3 separate regions of the Homo sapiens genome follow, and regions 1 and 3 are each linked to region 2. The links come from fine-mapping of genetic effects on gene expression. A gene starts in region 2. Each other region holds a variant in brackets. All regions are shown on one strand. Distances are between the middles of the regions. Region 1 holds the start of TTI2 (TELO2 interacting protein 2). Region 2 holds the start of POFUT3 (protein O-fucosyltransferase 3). Region 3 has its middle 21 kb from the start of SNORD13.

Region 1 (7,409 bases), 42 kb after region 2:
TGCTGGGACTACAGGAGTGAGCCACCTCGCCCGGCCACATTTTGTAATTATTAACTCCAAGTAAGTGGGACAGAATTTCCAATTTTCCTAGGCAGTCGTCCTAAGGGCTGGAAAGAGCATTGGACAACTGAGCCCGAACATCTCAGTTATGACCTCCAATTTGCCACTATCCAGTTATGTCATTTATAGCAAATCACAACGTTTCTGGGCCTTAAGAGATCCGTGGTTACAGCACCCTTATTTTACTGCTGAAGAAATTGAGCTTCCTTTGAGGTATAACGCTATAAAAAATTAAGCTAGGGCAGGCGCAGTGGCTCACGCCTGTAATCCCAGCATTTTGGGAGCCCGAGGCGGGTGGATCACTTGAGGTCAAGAGTTCAAGACCAGCCTGGCCAACATGGTGAAACCCCGTCTCTACTAAAAATACAAAAAATCAGCCAGGCGTGGTGACGGGCAACTGTAATCCCAGCTACTCCGAAGGCTGACACAGGAGAATCGCTTGAACCCAGGAGGCGGAGGTTGCAGTGAGCTGAGATCGCAACATTGCACTCCACCCTGGGCAACAAGAGTGAAACTCTGTCTCGAAAATAAATAAATAATAAAAAATAAAAATAAAAAACTGTGAGGCTCAAGTCGGTGGCAAAGGGCAGGAGTACTCACTTATACAAGTCGGGTTTGAGAAGCCCTAGTATCACCGAAAGTCTCCCTTTCTCATCTTCATTTTCTCCATGTAGGAATCCTGCCACAGAACCGCATTCAGTAACTTGAAGCAGTGAGGTGAGCACCTCCCTAGCAACTTCCCGAGATCTCGGAGTGGTCCATGGTTGCTCCAAGCTGTGTGTGATGGCAAAAATATAAACGGGTCCTGCCAAGTGATGCAGGCCCGTCTGCCATGCAGGGCCGACCAGGGAATTCTTAGCAGTCTCAACTTTCCCTAACAGTTTAAGAAACAGTAACCCAACTTGGGCTGCTTTCTCGGCCGCTTCGGAGTGCCCATCACCTCCACCTTCCTCCTCCTTGGAGGGGGCTGCATACTTCTCCAGGGCTTTTGCTACCTGCCCCAGTGTCTCCGGCATTCCGCGGAGCCGTGCACCAGTCCCCTCAAATAACCTATCAAATTCTGTGGCTTCTATTAGATCACCGAGGTCTTTAAGAACTGCATCTTTTACATTGCCTCGTCGTGCCTCCGGGCGGGCAAGACAGTGTAAAATCTTGGAGAAGGCCTGTCCAAAGGCGGAGTGAGACAACTCCTCGGACAAATTAGAGTCTTCCTGCGATGGGGCTTCCAGAGCGCTGTCAAGCTCCATTCCTGACTGCAGCACCAGAAGGCTGGTCTCTCCCACAGAACGAGGATGGAGGCGGGGAGGGATCCGTTGAAGAGGGAAGGAGCGATCACCCAAAGAGAACTAAAATCAAATAAAATAAAACAGAGAGATGTCTTGGAGGAGGGGGCGAGTCTGACCGGGATAAGAATAAAGAGAAAGGGTGAACCCGGGAGGCGGAGTTTGCAGTGAGCCGAGATCGCGCCACTGCACTCCAGCCTGGGCGACAGAGTGAGACTCCGTCTCAGTAAAAAAAAAAAAAAAAAAAAGAATAAAGAGGAAAGGACGCAAGAAAGGGAAAGGGGACTCTCAGGGAGTAAAAGAGTCTTACACTTTTAACAGTGACGTTAAAAGACTACTGTTGCCTTTCTGAAGACTAAAAAGAAAAAAAACTTAAAAATTTAAAGAAATAAACTTCTGAGCCATGTCACCAACTTAACCACCCCCAGGTACCTGCAACGGCTCGCGCCCGCCGGTGTCTAACAGGATCCGGACCTAGCTCATATTGCTGCCGCAAAACGCAAGGCTAGCTTCCGCCAGTACTGCCGCAACACCTTCTTATTTCACGACGTATGGTCGTAAAGCAATAAAGATCCAGGCTCGGGAAAATGACGGAGAGGTGGAACTATAGAGAATAAATTTGCATATATAATAATCCGCTCGCTAATTGTGTTTCTGTTTTCCTTTGCTAAGGTAGAAACAAAAGAATAATCACAGAATCTCAGTGGGACTTTGAAAATATCCAGGATTTTATACGTGAAGAATGGATGTATCGCATTACGGTAGTCACCCTATGTGTAAATTAGTGGCACATACTTGGCACTCCTTAATGTCAACTATAAGATGATCCTTTTGTAGTTCATGAGCGTGATGATTGGGTGTTCATACGCTTGTGTGAGATGTGCCACCCTTGAACCTTGTTACGACGTGGGCACATTACCCGTCTGACCTGAACTTCAAGGATCGATTTAACACTTGTATTTGTGGGCTTGTTACTTATGATAACAGGTGGCCTAGTTTCATGGCTTTGTGTTTACCGTTTTCGGGTGCCC[T/C]TTTTTCTGGCTGTATGCTACACGCACGGGTGCTTTTCCGTTGTCCAACTGTGTAATGTGTTTTTGTGTTTGTTCTTTTGTGAGTCGGAGTCTCGCGTTGTCGCCAGGCTGGAGTTGCAGTGTTGCGATCTCGGCTCACTGCAACCCCCACCTCCGGTTTTCGAGAGATTGTCCTACCTCAGCCTCCCGAGTAGCTGGGACTATAGGCGCGCGCCACCACGCCCAGCTAATTTTTGTATAAATATTGGCAAGGATGGTCTCGATCTCTTGACCTCGTGATGCGCCCGCCTCGGCCTCCCAAAGGGCTGGGATTACAGGCGTGAGCCACCGCGCCTGGCCAATGCAGAGCTTTTTAATGGCTTTAATTTTTTAGGTTTGGGAGATACCTGCGCAGGTTTGTTACCTGGATATGTTGTGGGATGCTGGGATTTGGAGTGCAGCTTAGCCCGTTTTCATTGCCCCCTCTAGTAGACCACAGTGTCTGTTGTTGCCACTTTTATGTCCACGTGTTCCTAATGTTTAGCTCCCACTTATGAATGAGAGCATGCGGTATTTGGTTTTCTGTTCAATGCAATACTTTAGCTGGTTTCTGGAGCTAGCGTTTTAAAGCCTGTAGCCACAAGCGTTTGAAAATTCAAATTCTAGCGTCAAGGTAGAAGCCCCCAGCTGGCGTCTGGGGCAGCCCTGAGGGAGGTGGGTCGTCGGGTTGGCGGATCCGGCTTGGGCCCGCCCCGCCAGTGTCGGCGCCGGGTGCGCAGGGACAGCAGAGCGCTGTCTTGGGCATGGGTCGCAGGCGGCGCCCGGAACGGGCCAGGGGAGCTGGAGGCTGCAGACTCGGGCTCGGCGGGTGTAGGAACCAGTGGTGTTTGCTTGGGTTTTGAGAAGGCGCGAGAAGGGTCGCGCCTGTGCGACCGCCCTGTGTTGGGTCCCCCACGCCGCGTCGGCATTGCTTGTTCCCTCTTCCTGCGCTTTCCTGGAGGGTAGAATTGCGTCCGATTGGCCTTCAGTTCCCGAGGAGCTGCTTCCATTTAGGACCTTGTGACTCTCATAGCTTCCACGGTTTCGCAGGAGCCCGAGGAGGCAAACTTCATTTGTGCCACTGCACAGGCGGGAGCTTCGGACCCTGGGAGGGGTGGCGCGAGAGAGACGTGTCGCCAGCTGCTCGGAGAGGGACTCTTATTCAGCCTCTAAGGCGTCAATTGCGCCTCCAGGGTTCCAGGAGTCCAGAGAAAGCCCTTCGGGGTCTTCTGACCTGGGGTAGGGTGAGGGGCGTGTGTGCGCGCAGGGGCGAGGGAGGGGTGACGTGTCAGGTGTCCTTTGTCCTCGCGAGGAGGTGGTTATGGGGTAGAGGGACATACAGTATTTTCGTCCCACCTTGGGGAGCGCACCAGCTTCTTGGTGCACTACTTGCAACTGTCCCATCTGCGGTGTCTTGCTGCCTACTCGCCTGCCCTTCTTTCCATTTTGCTGTCTGACCTTGGGCAAAAGTTCGGTAGCCTCTCTGTGCCTTCATTTCTTTTTATTTTTTATTTAATTAAAAAATATTTTTTTAGAGACAGGGTCTTGCTCCGTGGCCCAGGCAGGAGTGCAGTGGCGTCATCGTATCTCACTGCAGCTTCAAACTCCTGGGTTCAAGCGATCCTCCCGCCTCAGTCTCCCAGTAACTGGGACCACAGGCGCGCCCTACCACACCCTACTAATATTTTCTAATTTTTTTGTAGAAATGGGGTCTCGCTGTATTACCCAGGCTAATCTCGAGCTCCTGGCCTCGCGATCCTCCCTCCTTGGCCTCCTAAAGCGCTTAGATTACAGGTGTGAACCACCCACCTCGCTGGTGCCTTAATTTTTTTTTTCTTTTTCTTTTATTTTTCCTTCCTTCCTTCCTTCCTTCCTTCCTTCCTTCCTTCCTTCCTTCCTTCCTTCCTTCCTTCTTCCTTCTTCCTTCTTCCTTCTTTCTTTTCTTTCTTGTCTCCCTGTCGCCCAGGCTGGAGTGCAGTGGTGTGATCTTGGCTTATAGCAACCTCTGCCTCCCAGGTTCAAGCGATTCTCATGCCTCAGCCTCTCGAGTAACTGGGATTACAGGCACCCACCACGCCCAGCTAATTTTGTATTTTTACCAGACACGGAGTTTCACCATGTTGGCCAGGCTGGTCTCTAAATCTTGACCTCAAGTTATCCACCTGCCTTGGCTTCCCAAAGTGCTGTGATTACAGGCGTGAGCCACCTCGCCCAGCCACCTTAATTTCTTTATCGGAAAAATGCAGGTAGTAATAATTCGTACCACTTAGGAGTGTTGTGAGAAAGGAATTATATGTAAACTGCTTAGAACAATATCTGGTCAGCAGAAAGTTCTACATAGGTGTTGGCTCATGTTAAACCACAGCTCCTGTGTTGTTACATTTCCTCTTTCCAGGGTAATTTTGTGGTTAGGACCCTCCCTCTCGGCCTCTTTCATTCAGCTTTCCCTTCTCTGACCAATTGGTGGCACTCATGATTTTTTAAGCAATTTCAACCACTGGTAACCATCTCCTCCCGAGGGGACTCTCCTGTTTGCAGGCCCAAGTGGAAGCAAGATGCCAATAAATAGACAGTTATTGTGTCCCTCCTGTGTGCAAGCGTCTCTTCCCTGTTCCATGTGCCCCTTGTGCTAAGTGGACCCAAGCTATTACTTCTTATAAGGAAAGCACTTGTATTGTGGAGATCTCCCCATCTGCACTTCTGAGTTTCCTGAAGCCAGAGACCACGTCTTTATTCCCAGTGCCTGGCACAATTTGGTCATGCAATAAATGTTTGTTGAACCCACACATCCATCCACAGAGGACTGGCTGAATAAACTATGTATATCCACACAATGCAGTTTTATGCCGCTGCACAGAGGAAAGAGAACCATCTCTGTGGACTGCCTTGGAAATCTAGGATGTATTGTTAAGTGAAAAAAGCAGGACAGAGACCATGTGTATGTTGCCTTTATTTTTATTTTTCCCCCTTTTCACACGTGTTGAAATGCTGCCTTTCTTGTAAGAAAGATGGGAAAATAGAAATAATGATGTGTGCATTTGCTTACATGTTAAAGATGCAATAGAGTGTAAATTATAAACTAAGAAAAATGGTTATAGGTAAGAAAAGAACGGGGTGAAGGAAATAGGAATGGAAGCTAGATTTCTCTGTATACACTGTGTTTAATAGCTTCAACTTTGGATTCATGTAAATTTTTTTGTTGTTGTTGAGATAGAGCCTCACTCCAGTCCAGGCTGGAGTGCAGTTGTGCGATCTCGGCTCACTGCAGCCTCTGCCACCCCGGGTTCAAGTGATTCTCCTGCCTTAGCCTCCCAAGTAGCTGGGATTACAGGCGCCTGCCACCACACACGCCTGATTTTTGTATTTTTGGTAGAGATGGGGTTTTACCATGTTGGCCAGGCTGGTCTGCAGCTCATGACCTCACGTGATCCACCTGCCTCGGCCTCCCAAATTGCTGGGATTACAGGCATGAGCCACCGCACCCGGCCACATAATTTTTATTTTTTTTTGAAGCAACAAAAGCAGAGACGTATTGAAAATGAAAGTATACTCCTCAGGGCAAGAGTGGGCCAAAGCAAGCAGCTCAAGAGCCTACATAACTATTTTTTTAAAAGAAAATAACAAAGCATTTCCTAAAAGAAAAGAAATAAAGAGTACATTGAGTCACTGGCATAACCACACAAATTAACTGTAAAACTCATTAATTTGACTCTATATCCTTAGTGTGACAAAGCCTAAAATCAGAAAAAAATCAACTGCATTTAATAATGGTATACTGTTGGTAATATTAATATTGTTTAGGTGTGTTTCTTTTGGGTTTGTTTATTTGTTTTTTGAGACAGAGTCTCCCTCTTTCGCCCAAGCTGGAGTGCAGTGGTGCGATCTCGGCTCAGTGCGACCTCTGCCTCCTGGGCTCAAGTGATTCTCCTGCCTCAGCCTCCCAAGTAGCTGGGATTACAGGCATGTGCCACCTTGCCCAGCTAATTTTGTATTTTTAGTAGAGACGGGGTTTCACCACGTTGGCCAGGCTGGTCTCGAACTCCTTACCTCAGGTGATCCACCTGCCTCGGCCTCCCAAAGTGCTCGACCCACCGCGCCTGGCCTGTTTAGGTGTTATTACATGTATTTTGTATAACTTATATATGTATATAAGATAACAAGTAACAATATTATTAGAAACCCAGATTTTCAATGAAAGATAAAAGAGATACTAGTATCAAATCAATTAAGTTAGCTATAAATTCTGTAATCTGATTGAGTCACATATTTGAGTAAACAAATCTGTAATCTGAAATTAGAATTGGCAATGTTGGTATGAATTTATATATGTATATATACACATATACATACATATATATACACACACATATACATATATATATCCCAGTTGTGTCCACTGAAAGGCCAAGAAGAATGACAGTCTAATGGCTGTGAGCACCTGGATGTCCAAATTTGTAGTTTAAATGCCATTTCCCACTAAAAGGAACCAGTGAGGCTTTAGGAAATGATTGATTTCAGAACTAGGGCAGGAATTACACAAGGTGGGCCTGTGGCATTTTGTTATGCCTGAAAGCAAGGTAGCTATTAAATACTGCTGAGGTGATGTGAAAACAAAAACAAAAACAAAAACAACCCAAGGCCCTATAGCTCACGGATTACAGCACTGGTCTTGTAGAGGAGTAATGACTGTAATGAATTAAAACAAATATATACAAATCCATGAGTTCATAATGATACTAAAAAAAATCACTAATCATTCATCTTTGGATCACTTAAGAAAACAAATGTTTATTTTGAGAATTGATATATAAAGGAAAAAAATCAAGCATTTATTCTTCTGTCTATTCGAGGGTACCCAAATCATTCGTAAGGGTCATAAATGCAACAAAATGGTAGAATTAGAAAGTCACTATTCACACCTCCTAATGAAACATTGAGACAAGGCAACTATCATCCATTGTGATTACAATTATGAGGTGAAGGTTGATGGGGAACTTTATAACTGAACTACTGATTT
Region 2 (8,005 bases):
GTGGTGCATGCCTGTAATGCCAGCACTTTGGGAGGCCAAGGAGGGTGGATTTCTTGAGGCCAGGAGTTGGAGACAAGCCTGGCCAACATGACAAAACCCCGTCTCTACTAAAAATACAAAAATTAGCTGGGTGTGGTGGTGCGTGCCTATAGCCCCAGCTACTGGGGAGGCTGAGGCAGGAGAATGGCATGAACCCGGGAGGCGGAGTTTGCAATGAGCCGAGATCGCGCCACTGCACTCCAGCCTGGGCTACAGAGCAAGACTCTGTCTCGAAAAAAAAGCAAAAACAAAAACAAAAACAAAAATCTGTGTTAATGTGTACCTCGCTCATTTTCAGTGAACTTCATATTTTGCTGAGCATTTATTTTTATATAAAGCATGCTTTGGATTGTAGATTTCTATGTGGGAAAGTCATCCTCTTCATACTAGTGCAAATTTCAGGAGAGACCAGTAGAGGACAGTAAGGGAGAAAGGCACACTGGCAGTCATGTGAATCAAGACTGGTGATTAATGGGGAAAGAGGTGTAGCCAGAACACCTCTGCACTTCTATTGCAGAAATGAAGGCAATGTCATTCCTCAATCCTTAAATTCCAGACACATACTAAAGTACTTAAATTATGCAGTGTTAATAATACAACCTCACAAGAAAGAGTATTCAGTGGATCTACTTGATGTAGAAACTAAAAACAAATCCAAAAGACAGAGAGCCAGATAAACAGACAGACTGATACAATGCCTCAATTAGAAACACAGATTTTTTACTTTTTCTTTTTTTTTTTTTTTTTTTTGAGATGGAGTCTCACTCTGTCACCAGGCTGGAGTGTAGTGGCACTCACCACAATCTCTGCCTCCCGAGTTCAGGCGATTCTCCTGCCTCAGCCTCCCGAGTAGCTGGGATTACAGGTGTGCACCACCACACCCAGCTAATTTTGTATTTTTAGTAGAGACAGGGTTTCACGATGTTGGTCAGAATGGTCTTAACCTCCTGACCTCGTGATCCACCTGCCTCGGCCTCCCAAAGTGCTAGGATTACAGGTGTGAGCCATGGCGCCCGGCAAGAAGCACAGATTTTTAAAATGGAAAGCTTGGTGTCGTGGCTCATGCCTGCAATCTCAGCACTTTGAGACGCCGAGGTGGGTGGATCACTTAAGCCCAGGAGTTCAAGACCAGCCTAGGCAACACAGCAAGAACCCATCTCTACAAAAAAAAAAAAAAAAAAAAAAAAAAAAAGTTAGCTGGGCATGCTGGTGTGCACCTGTAGTCATAGTCCCAGCTACCAGGAGGCTGAGCAGGAGGATCCCTTGAGCCCTGGAGGTCAAGGCTGCAGTGAGCTGTGATCGTGCCACTGCACTCCAGCCTGGGTGGCAGAGCTAGACCCTGTCTCAAAAATAAATAAAAATTAAAAGTGGGGTGACAGCACAAGACTATGAAGTTTATGTGTCACAGTAAGAACTAAGGCAATTCTTCAAGAGCAGGGATTCTTTTTCATCTTTGTTTTTCCTATGAGGTCTTATACTAATAAGTATTAGTAACTATTCTTCCTCCAAGTAGGGCTTATAGGTTACTTTGTGGCAATTTCCCACCCTACAAGATACTCGAATTAAAATCCCTCATCTCTAGAAAAAATATAAATTAATAAATATTGAATAACTGCAGACTAGAAAAAACAAATAAAATCCCTGATCTGCTTTTATCATTTATATATTCATGAATGAGGAGCTGGTTCAGTAACACTGACAAAATGTAGCTAATATTTCACATGACTAAAGACAAATCCCTGAGGATCTTCTGAGGTTCCATCCCAAAACTAAGCTCTCTCATCCCATAAATTATATCCAGGAGTAAAAACTCTCCATAAAAGATTAATCAAGAGACAGTAATCCAGACAACTTGAGTCATCACAAAGTAAGATTTCCGGAAATTTTTTTTTTAATTGTATATAACAGGTTTAGGATTACTTTATCTTCATTTTCCTTGTTGGTAATTCTGTATAATCTTTTGAAAACTCCAATTTCATTATCAAAGAAAAAAATCTGAAAGACATTTTAAGATAAACTTAACTTCTAAAAATGTTCAAAAACCCATGTTCAGAAACATTGTAACAAATGTTCACTGTAGAATGCTGGTAATTGAATTAGATATTGAATATCTACCCGAAATCAACTCTTTACATTCCGAGGTTGGTTTTTTTGTTTTTGTTTTTTGTTGTTGTTGTTGTTGTTGTTTTGTTTTGAGACAGTCTCGCTCTGTTGCCCAGGCTGGAGTGCAGTGGCGCAGTCTTGGCTCACCGCAACTTCCTCCTTCCAGGTTCAAGTGATTGTTCTGTCTCAGCCTCCCGAGTAGCTGGAACTACACGCACACGCCACCACATGAGCCCAGCTAATTTTTGTATTTTTAGTAGAGACGGGGTTTCACCATATTGGCCAGGCTGGTCTAGAACTCCTGATCTCGTGATCCGCCCGCCTCGGTCTCTCAAAGTTCTGGGATTACAGGCATGAGCCACCGCGCCCGGCCGGCCTACATTCCAAAGTTTAAAGCATTTAAATATGGGTTGGAAATATCTGCCTACTGAACAACATTTGTACATATATAAATAACATTGTTTTTCCAAACTATATTCTTTTTACTTCCTGAATTTAACCATAGTTTGAAATTTTTCAAAAATATTGTTTGTAAGATAAAACTTGAAAACTTACTTTTTTTTCTTATTGTAGAAGACAAGCAATAACAACACAGTAAAAGTTGAGATCGTGTTTTTAATTCACTGTTACACACTGCCATCTAGCAGGAAGCGAGCAAGAGTTATTACAGCAATTTCGAAATTGGAAGACCTGAATGATCACCTGAGGCTACCCAATCGCCTCTGGCTTCTCCTTACTCAGAAGAAAGTTTTAAAACGGAGACTACGGTGCTGCTAGATTGGAGGCAGTGAAACTTCAGCGTTCAAAGAGCTGAGCTGCTTATTCAATGCGAGAAAGGCCTCCATTTGAGACTACGGTAGACCAGGGAGAAACCCTGCCCTAGTTGTAGTGTGACGTTACTAACAAGCCCAAGATTGGTCGTGAGTTTCCTGGGTGTCTCATTGGAAAGAAAGGTGTACGAAGGGAATAAAGTCCTGAAAGCCAACTTGCCTTATTCAAAACTGTGGCCAGCCAGAGCTGGATGCATTCCACAAACTAAATTAACAATCCAAGTCATTTCATGCACAAAACACTCTAACCAACTATTATTGCAGGGAGCTGCAGCAGGGAGCAGGGGGCAGGCTGTTGGGGCCGTGGTGTTAGAAAAAGTCATTCTGTGTGACATTTGCTTTATTTTAAAGAATCATTAAAAGATTCCCAGAAAATGTCATAAAATCACAGAAAAATTACTTCTATAGTTTACAAAAAATGAGCTCTGTTCTGAGGGTACTAATCGGGTGCAAAATACCTAACACATGGCTTGCAAATGGGATAACCCAGGCCTGCGGTTGCCGGTGCTTTCCTGGGGCATTTTCTCCATTAAATACGCCGTATTCTCTGCAACTAGAAAGTCACAGTTGCTACGACTTCAACACAACATTCCTGCAACAAGTGATTCTCTGGGAAGACCTGGGGGAGAACAAGGCAATTCGCGCCCCGCAAAGGCAGATTAGGTTCTGGAATGGACGGCCGCGGACCTGGGGAGGAGGCCGATCGGGGCAGGCGGGGAGGCGCCGGGACCCCGCGCTCCTTCTCCGGGCTCCAGCAGAGGCTCCGGCCCGGCACCCGCCTCCCGCCTGGTGGATCAGGCTTCAATCTCAGGCAGTGGCTCTGCCTTTGCGCCACTAAGTCTCCAAAACAGACTTGGATTATTTTGCACACACCATTCCGTCTCTTACACGCACCCCCTGCTCGGTACAGAGAGGGAGTTTCCTTAGGCTGTGACTCCCGGAGGTAGTGTCCCAGCTTCCGTGGGACCAGAAAAGCGTCTTTCCGTGTCTCAGCATCAAGCCCCTACCCCCACCAAGAGACCACAGAGGCCAGATGTGATGCGGCGCTCGCACTCACCTCGCGCGGAGCAGGGTTCGTCCCGCAGAATGCAGCGCAGCTTCCTTTCTCCCTATGAGCCCAAGCCTGGGCGCCGGGAAGACCCGAAGAGCCGATCAGGAGCGGAAGAGGCGGCCGCGCGGGCGAGCTCGGGGCGCGTTCCGGCGGAGCCAGCCTGGATCCGGGTTTTCACTCGTGCCCTGTTCACAAGCTCTTGGGACCCGGGTTCTAAGAACACCGGGCCGCCCCCTGCTGATGATCTTGGTTCGCAGTCCGCCTGAGGCCACGGCCCTATGGAAAGTTCTCGGGAAGGCTGCGGGGGCCCTCTTCTTTAAGACAGGGGAAACTCTCCGCTTCTCCAACTGGACTAGGACTGGAGCGCATGCAGTCACCTATTCAGGCCAGGCGTGGCAGCGGCTCACACCTGTAATCCCAGCACTTTGGGAGGCCAAGGCGGGCAGATCGCTTGAGCCCAGGAGTTCGATACCAGCCTGAGCAACATAGCGGGACCCTGTCTCTACAAAAAATGCAAAAATTAGCAGAGTGTGGTGGCCCATGCCTGTAGTCCCACCTACTGGGAGGCTGAGGTGGGAGGATCTCTTGAGTCCAGGAGGTAAAGGCTGCAGTTAACCGAGATCAAGCCACTGCACTCCAGCCTGGGCAACAGAGCAAGACTGTCTACAAAAATAAATAAAATAAATTTAAAAAAAAAGGTCAAAGTCATTTATTCAAGAAAAGATTGTACTGGTTGCTATGGTGTGAATGTTTGTACCCTGCCCCAAATTCATATGTGAATTTCGTGCCTTTATAGTCTATATAAATTTACAAATGTACTGTGTCTTTATGAAAGAGACCAGAGCAAGCTTCTGCCATGTGAGGACACATAGAGGGTCTCTTGTATGAGGCACAGACGCTAACAGATGAGGAATCTGCCAGCGTGTTTGTTGATCTTGGACTTCCCATCATCCAGACTGGGAGCAGTGGAGTTCCGTTGTTCATGCATTACCCAAACTAAGGTGTGTTGTGATAGTAGCCCAAACGGACTAGACACTGGTAAAGGAAAGCTAATTGACTTCAAGCTACTGAGTTCCAAATCCAAAAACTCAAATAAAATTATTGTGCCCTAGTCTAGGAGGTAATAAACCTAAGGAGGTAATTCAGCATTTTGGGAGGGGTGGGTCTAGGGCAAGGCAAATGAGGTACTTAGGGCTCAAAATCTGAGGAGGTGCTGACCCTGGGTGTCCTGCAGTGCTGGGTGCACTGCAGAAGCCTGAGAGCGATTTGCTGTTTCGGGCCTGCCTCCCTCTGGTCCCGACCCTGCGGAGCTCTGGTGCCAAGAAACTCAACTTTTCTATGAAAACAGGTTGATAATAATGGTGTCCACATCTAAAAAACATCAAACACACAGAAAAGATTGATAAATTAGATATGATTAAAAGTAAGAAACTCTATTCATCAAAAGACACCATTAAGAAAATAAGAAATGGGTGCAGTGGCTCACACCTGTAATCTCAGCACTTTGGTAGGCTGAGACGAGAGGATCACTTGAGCCCAGGAGTTGGAGACCAGCCTGGACAACATAGGGAGACCCCGTCTCTACGAAAAATTTTTAAAAATTAGCCAGGTGTGGTGGTGCACGCCTATGGTTTCCGCCACTCAGGAGGCTGAGGTGGGAGGATTGCTTGACCCTGGGAGGTCAAGGCTGCAGTGAGTCAGGATTGTGTCACTGCACTCCAGCCTGGGCAACAGGATTAGATCCTGTCTCAAGAAAGAAAAAGAATGAAAACTGATCTACGGAATGAGAGAAGGTATTTTTGATATATTGTATCTAACAATGAATTTAGAATATAACAAGAACTCCTAAAAGCAATAAGAAAGAAAAGCAATCAATAAGTACAGCACTTCACCGAAGACGAATCCAAATAGCCAGGCAGTATGTGAAAAAGATGCTTAATGTTTTTAGTCATTAAAGAAATGCAAATGAACACGATGATGATATATACTACACATCCACTAAAATGGCTACAGATTTTAAAACTGACAAGACAACACAAGGACAAAGCCGTGAAGCACATAGAACTGTTATGCACTATTGTTGGGGGTGCAGTTGTGACAGCCACTTTGGAAAATCATCTGTTCATATTTACTAGAGCTGAATATACACGTTGTGACCCAGAAATTCCTAGGTATAGGCCTAATACACATACCTATATATAAACATCAAAAGGCATGTATACTGGGCCATAAAACACACCTCGGCAGGGCACGGTCGCTTACGCCTATAATCTCAGCACTTTGGGAGGCCAAGGAGGGCGGATCACCTGAGGTTGGGAGAGCGAGACCAGCCTGACCAACATGGAGAAACCCCGTCTCTACTAAAAATACAAAAAAGTTAGCCAGGCGTGCTGTCAGGTGCCTACAATCCCAGCTACTCAGGAGGCTGAGGCAGGAGAATCGCTTGAACCTGGGAGGTGGAGGTTGCAGTGAGCCAAGATAGCGCCATTGCACTCCAGCCTGGGCAACAAGAGCGAAACTCGATTTAAAATAAAAAATAAAAAATAAAAAAAATTTAAAAAAACACACACACCTCAACAAATTTCAAAGAATGGACATCATACAAAGCATGCTATCAGACCACAAAGGAATTAAACCAGAAACCAGTAACTGAATGATAATTAGAAAATCTCCAGATACATGGAGATAAAAACAACACACTTCTATATAGCACATAGATCAAAGAAGAAAACTCGGGCGGGTGTGGTGGCTCACGCCTGTAATTCCAGCACTTTGAGAGGCCAATGTGGGTGGATCACCTGAAGTCAGGAGTTTGAGACCAGCCTGGTCAACATGGCGAAACCCTGACTCTACTAAAAATACAAAAATTAGCCAGGTGTGATGGCAGGCGCCCACAATCCCAGCTACTCAGGAGGCTGAGGCAAGAGAATCACTTGATCCCGGGATGCGGAGGCTGCAGTGAGCAGAGATCACTGCCGCTGCACTCCAGTCTGGGTGACAGAGTGAGACTCCATCTCAAAAAAAAAAGAAAGAAAGAAAATTCAAATTCAAGGTTGGCTCTGCAACTTGTGTTGGCCACAGAATGTAGCAGAAGTGACAGGATGCCATTTCCGGGTCCAGGCCTTAAGTGGCCTAGCATACTTCCACTTATTTTCTTGCCACTCTATGCAACTGCCATGAAACCAACTGCAGAATAGCCTTCTGGGCTATGAGGGATAATGGCTCAGTCACCCCTGTTGCCCCAGTCAATTGCTACCCAACTCTAAGATATGTGAGTGAGGCCATCCTAGACTAATTAGCCTCGAGTCAGTCCACCAGATGACCACAGATATGTGAGCAACCCCAGGTCAGCAGACTACCCACCGACTCATAGAAACACAAACATGAATAAATGCTTACTGTTTAAGCCACTGAGTTTCAGAGGCGTGTGTTATACAGCAATAGCTAACTGATACAGAAATTGGCATCTATGGCCGGATGCGGTGGCTCATGCCTGTAATCCCAGCACTTTGGGAGGCTGAGGTGAGAGGATCACGAGGTAAGGAGATGGAGACCATCCTGGCCAACATGGTGAAACCCCATCTCTACTGAAAATACAAAAATTAGCTGGGTGTGGTGGCGCGCGCCTGTAATCCCAGCTACTCGGGAGGCTGAGGCAAGAGAATCACTTGAACCCAGGAGGCGGAGATTGCAATGAGCTGAGATCATGCCACTGCACTCCAGCCTGGTGACAGAGCAAGACTCTGTCTCAAACAAAAAACAAACAAACAAAAAAAGAAAGTGCCATCTAGAAATGGGATGCTGTTTAACAAAAGCCTAAAATATGTGGCATTGGTTTAGGGACCAAGTCCTGGACAACACTGAAAAAGCAAGAAGCATGCTTGTGTTTGACAGACCTGATGCACTTACTGTCTGCTGCCAAGGTTTCCACTACAGATGCAAAAAGAAAAAAAGCAGTGCCATGCTCTCTGTTGGATTGTGG
Region 3 (8,005 bases), 61 kb after region 2:
TTGTCCCACTTTTACTAATGATAAGACAGATTGATCTGTTACAAAAGTCTCCATCAATCTTTCCCCTGGTGTCTACAGGAGCCATGAATAATCACTGCTTAATTTTGTTACTTCATTAGAGTTACAAAATGGCAATTTCCTAATTCTGTTATTTCCTTTTGCATCTTTACCTGGAACTCTGCTTTAAATAGAACTTTCCCCCAGCAACCAGTTATCTGATCACCCTGAATACAATTTGCACAGGAAAAGCAGGATAAATGCTTGATTTTTTCCTTTCATTAGCCAGTTTTTAGAATAATGAATTTAGTGCCTTAGTGACCTTCAATGAATACCTGATATTTGGTGGTTGTTCTTGTTAGTTTTTATTTTATTTTATTTATTTTTATTTTGTGGAGACAGGGTCTCACTATGTTGCCCAGACTGGTCTACTAACTCCTGGGCTCAAGCAATCCTCCCACTTCAGTCTCCCAAAGTGCTGGGATTTGGGAGGCATGAGCCATTGACACCCAGCCCGTTCTTACTAGTTTTATATGATCTTAAGGAATTTTATACATTTAATGAGTTTTATTCCATTGTAATTATTCTTGTTATACTCAAATCGTCCCATCTTTTGCCAATGGGGGTCTTTTCATTTTGGCTTCTGTGTCCTATTAACATGACTCAGTAGTCATGGATTGCTTCTTTCCTTTCTAGAATGGCAAGGTTGAAGCAACCATGTCTCCAAGAATCCCTAATTCCTTGTAAGGGGAAAGGCTATTTAAGGGCTACAATTTGAAGAGTGAGATGCCATTGCTCTTGAATTCGTATTGATTTTAGTTTTCTAGGTCTCGGTGGATGACACATCTAGGAAATATATGCTCTTTAAAAGCAGAAAAAAATCATAAATTTGTATTAATATTTCCAATTCAGATTTAAGATTTCAGGCTTATACTTCTTTAAAATGAGACTTGTATCTCTCCTCTCTTTTACTGCCCAGGTTGGAGGGCAATGGCACAATCTCGGCTCACTGAAACCTCTGCCTCCCAGGTTCAAGCTATTCTCTTGCCTCAGCCTCCCAAGTAGCTGGGATTACAGGAGCGTGCCACCACGCCCAGCTAATTTTTTTCTGTATTTTTAGTAGAGACGGGGTTTCACTATGTTGGCCAGGATGGTCTCCATCTCTTGACCTTGTGATCCGCCCATCTTGGCCTCCCAAAGTGCTGGGATTACAGATGTGAGCCACCGCGCCCGGCCAAAAATCTTGATTCATAATAACATTAATGTAATTACTTATTTGCTTTATTCTAAAATATACACATAAAGGTATTAAAATAGCAATATTGTTATTACTAAACATAAGATTACCTGGGCGTGGTGGCTCATGTCTGTGATCCCAGTATTTTGGGAGGCTGAGGTGGGCAGATTACCTGAGGTCAGGAGTTAGAGACCAGTCTGGCAAACACTGGTGGAACCCCACCTGTACTAAAAATACAAAAATTAGCCAGGTGTGATGGCATGTGCCTGTAGTCCCAGCTACTTTGTAGGCTGAGGCAGGAGAATCAGTTGAACCCAGGAGGCAGAGGTTGCAGTGAGCCAAGATCGCACCACTGCACTCCAGCCTGGGTGACAGAAAGAGACTCCGACTCAAAGAAAAAGAAAGAAAGAAAAAAACATGAGATTATTGAATATAATTTAAGACTTCTTTGCTATTTGTTTTTGTCTTTAGGGTACACTGAGTAAATAATTGCAATCAGCTGGGCATGGTGGCTCGCTCCTGTAATCCCAGCACTTTGGAAGGTCAAGGCAGGAAGATTGCTTGAGGCCAGGTGTTTGAGACCGGCCTGAGCAACATAGCTAGACCACCCCCACCATCTCTACAAAAAGTAAAATTAGCCAGGTGAGATGGCACATGTCTATAGTCCCAGCTACCTGGGAGGTTGAGGCAGGAGGATCACTTGAGCCCAGGAGGTTGAGGCTGCTTGAGCCATGATTGGGCCACTGCATTCCAGCCTGAGTGACAGAGCGAGGCCCTGTCTCAAATAATAATAATTTCAATCAAATGTTATGTTTCAAGTTACTTGAAATAGGCTTCTTTTCTATATAGCTGTGATATTCATTTTAGATGTCGACTCAACTGGGTCAAGGAATACCCAGATAGCTGGTCAAGGAATACCCAGAAAGCATTATTTCTGGTTATGTCTGTGAGGGTGTTTCCGGAAGAGATTGGCATTTGAATCAGTGATTGAGTAAGGAAGAGCTACCTGATGTGGGCAGGCATCATCTAATTTGTTGAGGGCCTGGATAGAATAACAAGTCAGAGGAAAGTCTAATTCACTCTGTCTTCTGGAGCTGGGACACCCATTTTCTCCTGCCTTTGGACATATGAACTCTAGCTTCTCAGGCCTTCAGACTCTGGGACTTACACCAGGAGCCCACAGGTTCTCAGGCCTTCGGACTCAGACTGAATTATGCCACTGGCTTCCCTGGTTCTCCAGCTTGCAGATGGTATATCATGGGGCTTCTCAGCCTCCATAGTCATGTGAACCAGTTCCCCTAATACATCCCCTCTTATCTACCTATCTGGAAAATTCTGACTTATACAATGGCTATGTGAGGACCTTGATATACGTTTATATGCATTTTTGTTTCTTTTCAATTTTCTAGGAATGGCTTGTCTCTTCTCATATATTATTATTTTTCTTTGTAGAGATAGGGTCTTGCTGTGTTGCCCAGGCTGATCTTGAATTCCTGGTCTCAAGTGATCCTCCTGCCTCAGCCTCCTAAAGTGCTGGGATTACAGGCATGAGCCAGTGTATCCTGCTCATTCACTGTTCAACACACTCAATTTTTCCTTCACCCCATGAATCCAGCAAAACTGCTTTTGCTCAGGCCCCCAGTAGCCTCCTCATTGCCAAATTCAATGGAGTGAAGTGGTATGCCCTCGACTCACTGCAACCTCCGCCTCCTGGGTTCAAGCACTTCTCGTGCCTCAGCCTCCCAAGTAGCTGGGATTACAGGTGTGCACCACACACCTGGCTAATTTTTGTATTTTTAGTAGACATGGGGTTTCACCGTGTTGGCCAGGCTGGTTTTGAACTCCTGACCTGAGGTGATTGGCCTACCGGGGCCTTCCAAAGGGCTGGGATTACAAGCATGAGATAATGCGCCCGCCCTGCCCGGCTCATTCTTTTTTTTTTTTTTTTTTTTTTTTTTGAAACAAAGTCTTACTTTGTTACAGTAGGTAGCTGGTCAGGCATGAGCAGGGCAGGAGAGGGCTCCGCCCAACACACACAAATATCAGGAATATCAGGCAACCATCAGGTGATGATCAGGCAGTTGTTAACTGTCTTTCTAAAATAGTAATTGGTCACAGCCAGTGCCAGGGAAAGGCAGTGTCCTAATACATGGAAAACACATGAAATGTGATCAGTGGCTTCTTGAGAAGACCTCAGGGGTTGGGCAAGTGGGCTCAGGAATGTGCCTGCAGACAGCCCACCCCAAGGGATGAATCAGGGGAGAAGTAACAAGACCGCAGAAGCATGCCAGCGTATAAAACCCCAAGTCAAAAGGTCAAACCGCACACTTGTCTTTCAAGTCACACACTTGGTCCTCGTCCAAGTGTAGGTTCTTTCCCTCCTTTTATTCCTGCTCTAAAGCTTTTCAATAAACTTTCACTCCTGCTCTAAAACTTGCCTTGGTTTCTCCTTTTGCCTTAGGTCCCTCGGTTGAATTCTTTCTTCTGAGGAAGCAAGATTTGAGGTTGCTGCAGACCCCTACAAATTGGCCTTGTCTAACATATTTTGGTGCCATGTGACTCGGATACCTTCCACCAGTAACAACTCTGTTGTCCAAACTAGGGTGCAGTGGCGCAACCATGGCTCACTGCAGCCTTGACCTCCCAGGTTCAAGGGAGCGATCCTCCTACCTTAGCCTCCTGGGCAGCTAGGACTATAGGCACATGGCCCAATGCCTGGCTAATTTTTTGTATTATTTTATATATATATATATATATATATATATATATATATATATATATACACACATATATATATATATATATATATATATATGTATATGTATATTTTGTAGAGATGGGGGTTTCACCATGTTGCCCAGGCTGGTCTTGAACTTCTGGCCTCAAGCGATCCTTCTGCCTCAGCCTTCCAAAGTGCTGGGATCACAGGCATGAGCCACTGTGCCCGGCCTATTTTCCATGAGCCACTGTGCCCGGCCTATTTTCCATTCTGGTACACAATTCCATTTCCAATAAAAACTTAACCCAGATAATGTCACTTTTCTGCTACAGTCCTATTATCAAAAGTTAGAATTCCCTAACATGGCTACTAGGCCCTCCCTGATCTGCTGCTGTGTCTCTTTGACCTCATTTGTACCTCCCTTCCCCATCTCTCACTAAGCTTAATTACATGGGATGTGTTCACCAACAGCCCAAGCTCTATTCTCTCTCAATTTCTTTTCTTTTCTTTTCTTTTCTTTTCTTTTTTGTGAGATGAAGTTTTGCTCTTGTTGCCCAGAATGGAGTGCAATGGTGTGATCTCGGCTCACTGCAACCTCCGCCTCCCAGGTTCAAGCGATTCTTCTGCCTCAGCCTCCCGAGTAGCTGGGACTACAGGCGCCTGCCACCACGCCTGGCTAATTTTTTTGTATTTTTAATAGAGATGGGGTTTTGCCATGTTGGCCAGGCTGGTCTTGAACGCCTGACCTCAGGTGATCCGCCC[G/A]CCTGGCCTCCCAAAGTGCTGGGATTACAGGCGTGAGCCACCACCCCCGGCCCTCAATTTCTTTCTTTTTTTTTTTTCCTCAATTTCTTACATACACTCTTCTGTCTGGCCTTTCCCTACCTCTTGTCATTCTTGTGCTCTGAGCTTAAATGTCTCTTGCTCAGAAAAGACCTTCCTTGTCCATCCCTCTCCTCTGGTTTTACGAAGGTAGTCACTGGATACCTTACGATGGTTGGTCCATGTATTAAATATATGAGTATGCTTGTTTAGGCTTCATCTCCCCCATTAGACTGTAAACATCTTGGGAGTAGGAGCCATTTTGGTCTTGCTCATTGGCACAATGCCTGGCATGTAGTAGGCACTCAATATGTGTTGGCTGTTTAATAAGTTTGAGAAGTTTGATTCTAAGTACAATCATCCACATCAGACTTCTCTACAAATTGTATATTCAGTGGGCATCAGCTCTGCCCAGTGAAAGAAAGCAAACCCGGAATGCAGTGCTTGTGACTTAGTACAGGCTCAGTAAGGGACAGCTGTATTAATTGGGATAATGGCAGGGGAGGGATATACACAAACTTCCTTATTTCTTACAGACTTTTCACTTAGTCCCCTTGTTTAGTTGCATGGCTTCCTATGACCTTATTTTATTTATTTTTATTTTATTTTATTGATTCATTTTTTTTTGAGACAGAGTCTCGCTTTGTCACCCAGGCTGGAGTGCACTGGTGCAATCTCGGCTCACTGCAACCTCTGCCTCCCAAATTCAGGTGATTCTCCTGCCTCAGCCTCCTGAGTAGCTGGGACTACAGGCGCATGCCACCATGCCCGGCTAGTTTTTGTATTTTCAGTAGAGACGGGGTTTCACCATGTTGGCCAGGATGGTCTCGATCTCCTGACCTCGTGATCCACCCGCCTCAGCCTCCCAAGGTGCTGAGATTACAGGTGTGAACAACTGCGCCCTGCCCCCTGTGACTTTAGAAACAAAAATAGCATGACTTCAAGTCTTTCATATACACTTTTTTATGTACTCTTCTTAATCACACTCTGAGGCAGTTACTATATCTCCATTTTACAGAGGAGAAAAAGGAGGCTTAGAGAGATTAAGGAACTAGGCTGAGGTCTCCTGGCTAATTAGAGGCAGAGCTGGGTTTAAAACCCATTCTTTGAATTCCAGGGCTAGCTTTGTTTATTCCACACTACAAATTAATCTCATAATGAGGCGTAGAAGGGAAAGATCCCATGTTTTCCCAAACACAGCCACATTTCATCACTGACTCTTGTCAGTGAACCTTTTGTTCCTCAAATACTAGGAACAAAAATCATTCATTTGGAACTGTTCTTTCTTCCTCTGTACGTGCTTCGTGCATTTCTCTTTGTAAACAAGACTTTAAATAAATTACTTCTAGGCCAGGAGCAAGGGCTTATGCCTGTAATCCCAGCAATCTGGGAGTCCAAGGCAGGAGCATCACTTGAGGCCAGGAGTTTGACACCAGCCTGGGCAAAAAATCGAGACCCCCATCTCTACTAAAAAATAATAATAAGAAGAAAACCAAAGAAATTACTTCTAATTGTTTTATTCTATAGGCACATCTCACTTAAACTTATTTACATGCAGATCTTAGTGTTTTAAAGTCTATAAATTAAGTAAAAAACTCCTTAAGTCTCATTTTAGAGAGGTTTTAGTTGTAAAAAGGCTCGACATAGACTTCTTTAGATAATGAAAACCCCTGGCATGTTTCAGGCAATTATTCAATTCAATGTGCACAGCTTCCAGAACACAGAATGCAGAGATGCCCAGAATTAATGGTCTGGCAGCAAGTCTGTTTCTCATGTTTTCCAATCTGAATGTATAAATTTTTAATCTTACAAACCTGTAATGAATGTGTTGGATTACTGTCTTTGCTCTATTGTCAGCATATAAAGAGACTCAGCTTCTTGGCAGAATGATTAAGTTAAGGATATTGCATTCTAACCACAAGGAAACACAGATCTCCTCCTTGTCAGCATTCTTCCTTCCAAAAAGGTTGCTTAAAGTGGTGCTTAAAAGATAATTCTATCCTAAAACACAGTGACTTAGGAAAAAAAAAAAGAGAGAAATAAATAAAGATAATTCTAGCTTACTAAATTTAGGGTGTGGAAAAAGTCCAAAATGAGAATATTCACTGGGTAATTGTGCAAGGAATGTTAATATGTGTGATAAAGGGAGGGTATTCTACCCACCTGATGCTTGCCTCTGCACCCTCCCCCCCACTTCCGTTTTGCCTTGACATACAACATACAATTTATCAAGGTTAAAAGTTAAATGAGGGCCAGGCGTGGTGACTCATCCTGGTAATCCCAGCACTTTGGGAGGCCGAGGCAGGTGAACTGCTTGAGCCCAGCCTGGGCAACATGGCAAGACCCTGTCTCGATAAAAAATATAAAAAAATTAGCTGGCTGTGGTGGTACAAACCTGTAGTCCCAGCTACTTGGGAGGCTGAGGTGCGAGGATCACCTGAGCCCAGAAGGTCGAGGCTGCAGTGAGCCATGACTGTGCCACTGCACTCCAGAGCCTCGGTGACAGAGTGAGACCCTATGTTACTCTGTTCTCATGCTGCTATGAAGAATAACCCGAGACTGGGTTATTTATAAAGGAAAGAGGTTTAATTGACTCACAGTTCTGCATTGCTGGGGAGGCCTCAGGAAACTTACAATCATGGCAGGAGGCAAAGGAAAAGCAGGCACCTTCTTCACAGGACAGCAGGACGGACAGAGTGAGTGCAAGCACGGGAAATGCCAGACGCTTAAACAACCATCAGATCTCGTGAGACTCACTATCATGAGAACAGCATGGGGGAACCACCCCCATGATCCAATTACCTCCACTTGGTCCTGCCCTTGACACACGGGGATTATGGGGATTATAGGGGTTACAATTTAAGATGAGATTTTAGGTGGGGGAGCAGCCAAACCATATCAGATCATGTCTCAACGAAAAAAAAAAAAGAAAGAAAGAAAAGCTAAGTGAGGCAGTCAACTCTTTGTCACTGCCACCACATTTTAAATATGAAATAGGCTGTGTGCGGTGGCTCATGGCTATAATCCCAGCACTTTGGGAGGCCAAGATGGGTGGATCACCTGAAGTCAGGAGTTCGAGACCAGCCTGGCCAACATGATGAAACCCTGTCTCTACTAAAAATACAAAAATCAGCTGGGTGTGGTGGCAGGCGCCTGTAATGCCAGCTACTCGTGAGGCTGTGGTAGGAGAATTGCTTGAATCCAAGAAGCGGAGGTTGCAGTGAGCTGAGATC

Evidence for each region.
Region 1: its variant is fine-mapped to the expression of POFUT3 in whole blood (INTERVAL, PIP 0.96).
Region 3: its variant is fine-mapped to the expression of POFUT3 in whole blood (TOPMed, PIP 0.99).

The regions. Positions count from the first base shown.
Region 1 is chr8:33,511,307-33,518,715 of GRCh38, forward strand. It overlaps TTI2 (TELO2 interacting protein 2), which reads right to left and starts at 1,829. Exons shown (of 8, transcript NM_001102401.4): 1 at 1,776-1,829; 2 at 661-1,406. The coding sequence starts at 1,307. It overlaps SNORD13 (small nucleolar RNA, C/D box 13), which reads left to right and starts at 2,169; the gene lies at 2,169-2,272. RefSeq lists enhancers at 1,861-2,000, 3,521-3,810 and a silencer at 2,431-2,480. The variant T/C (reference allele first, on the strand shown) is at 2,375.
Region 2 is chr8:33,469,035-33,477,039 of GRCh38, forward strand. POFUT3 (protein O-fucosyltransferase 3) reads right to left here and starts at 4,112. Exons shown (of 5, transcript NM_032664.3): 1 at 4,030-4,112. RefSeq lists silencers at 2,332-2,381, 3,612-3,851, 4,142-4,221 and an enhancer at 3,082-3,291.
Region 3 is chr8:33,530,250-33,538,254 of GRCh38, forward strand. No RefSeq gene overlaps it. Among named protein-coding and RNA genes, the nearest start is that of SNORD13, 21 kb to the left of the region's middle. RefSeq lists a silencer at 7,399-7,599. The variant G/A (reference allele first, on the strand shown) is at 4,716.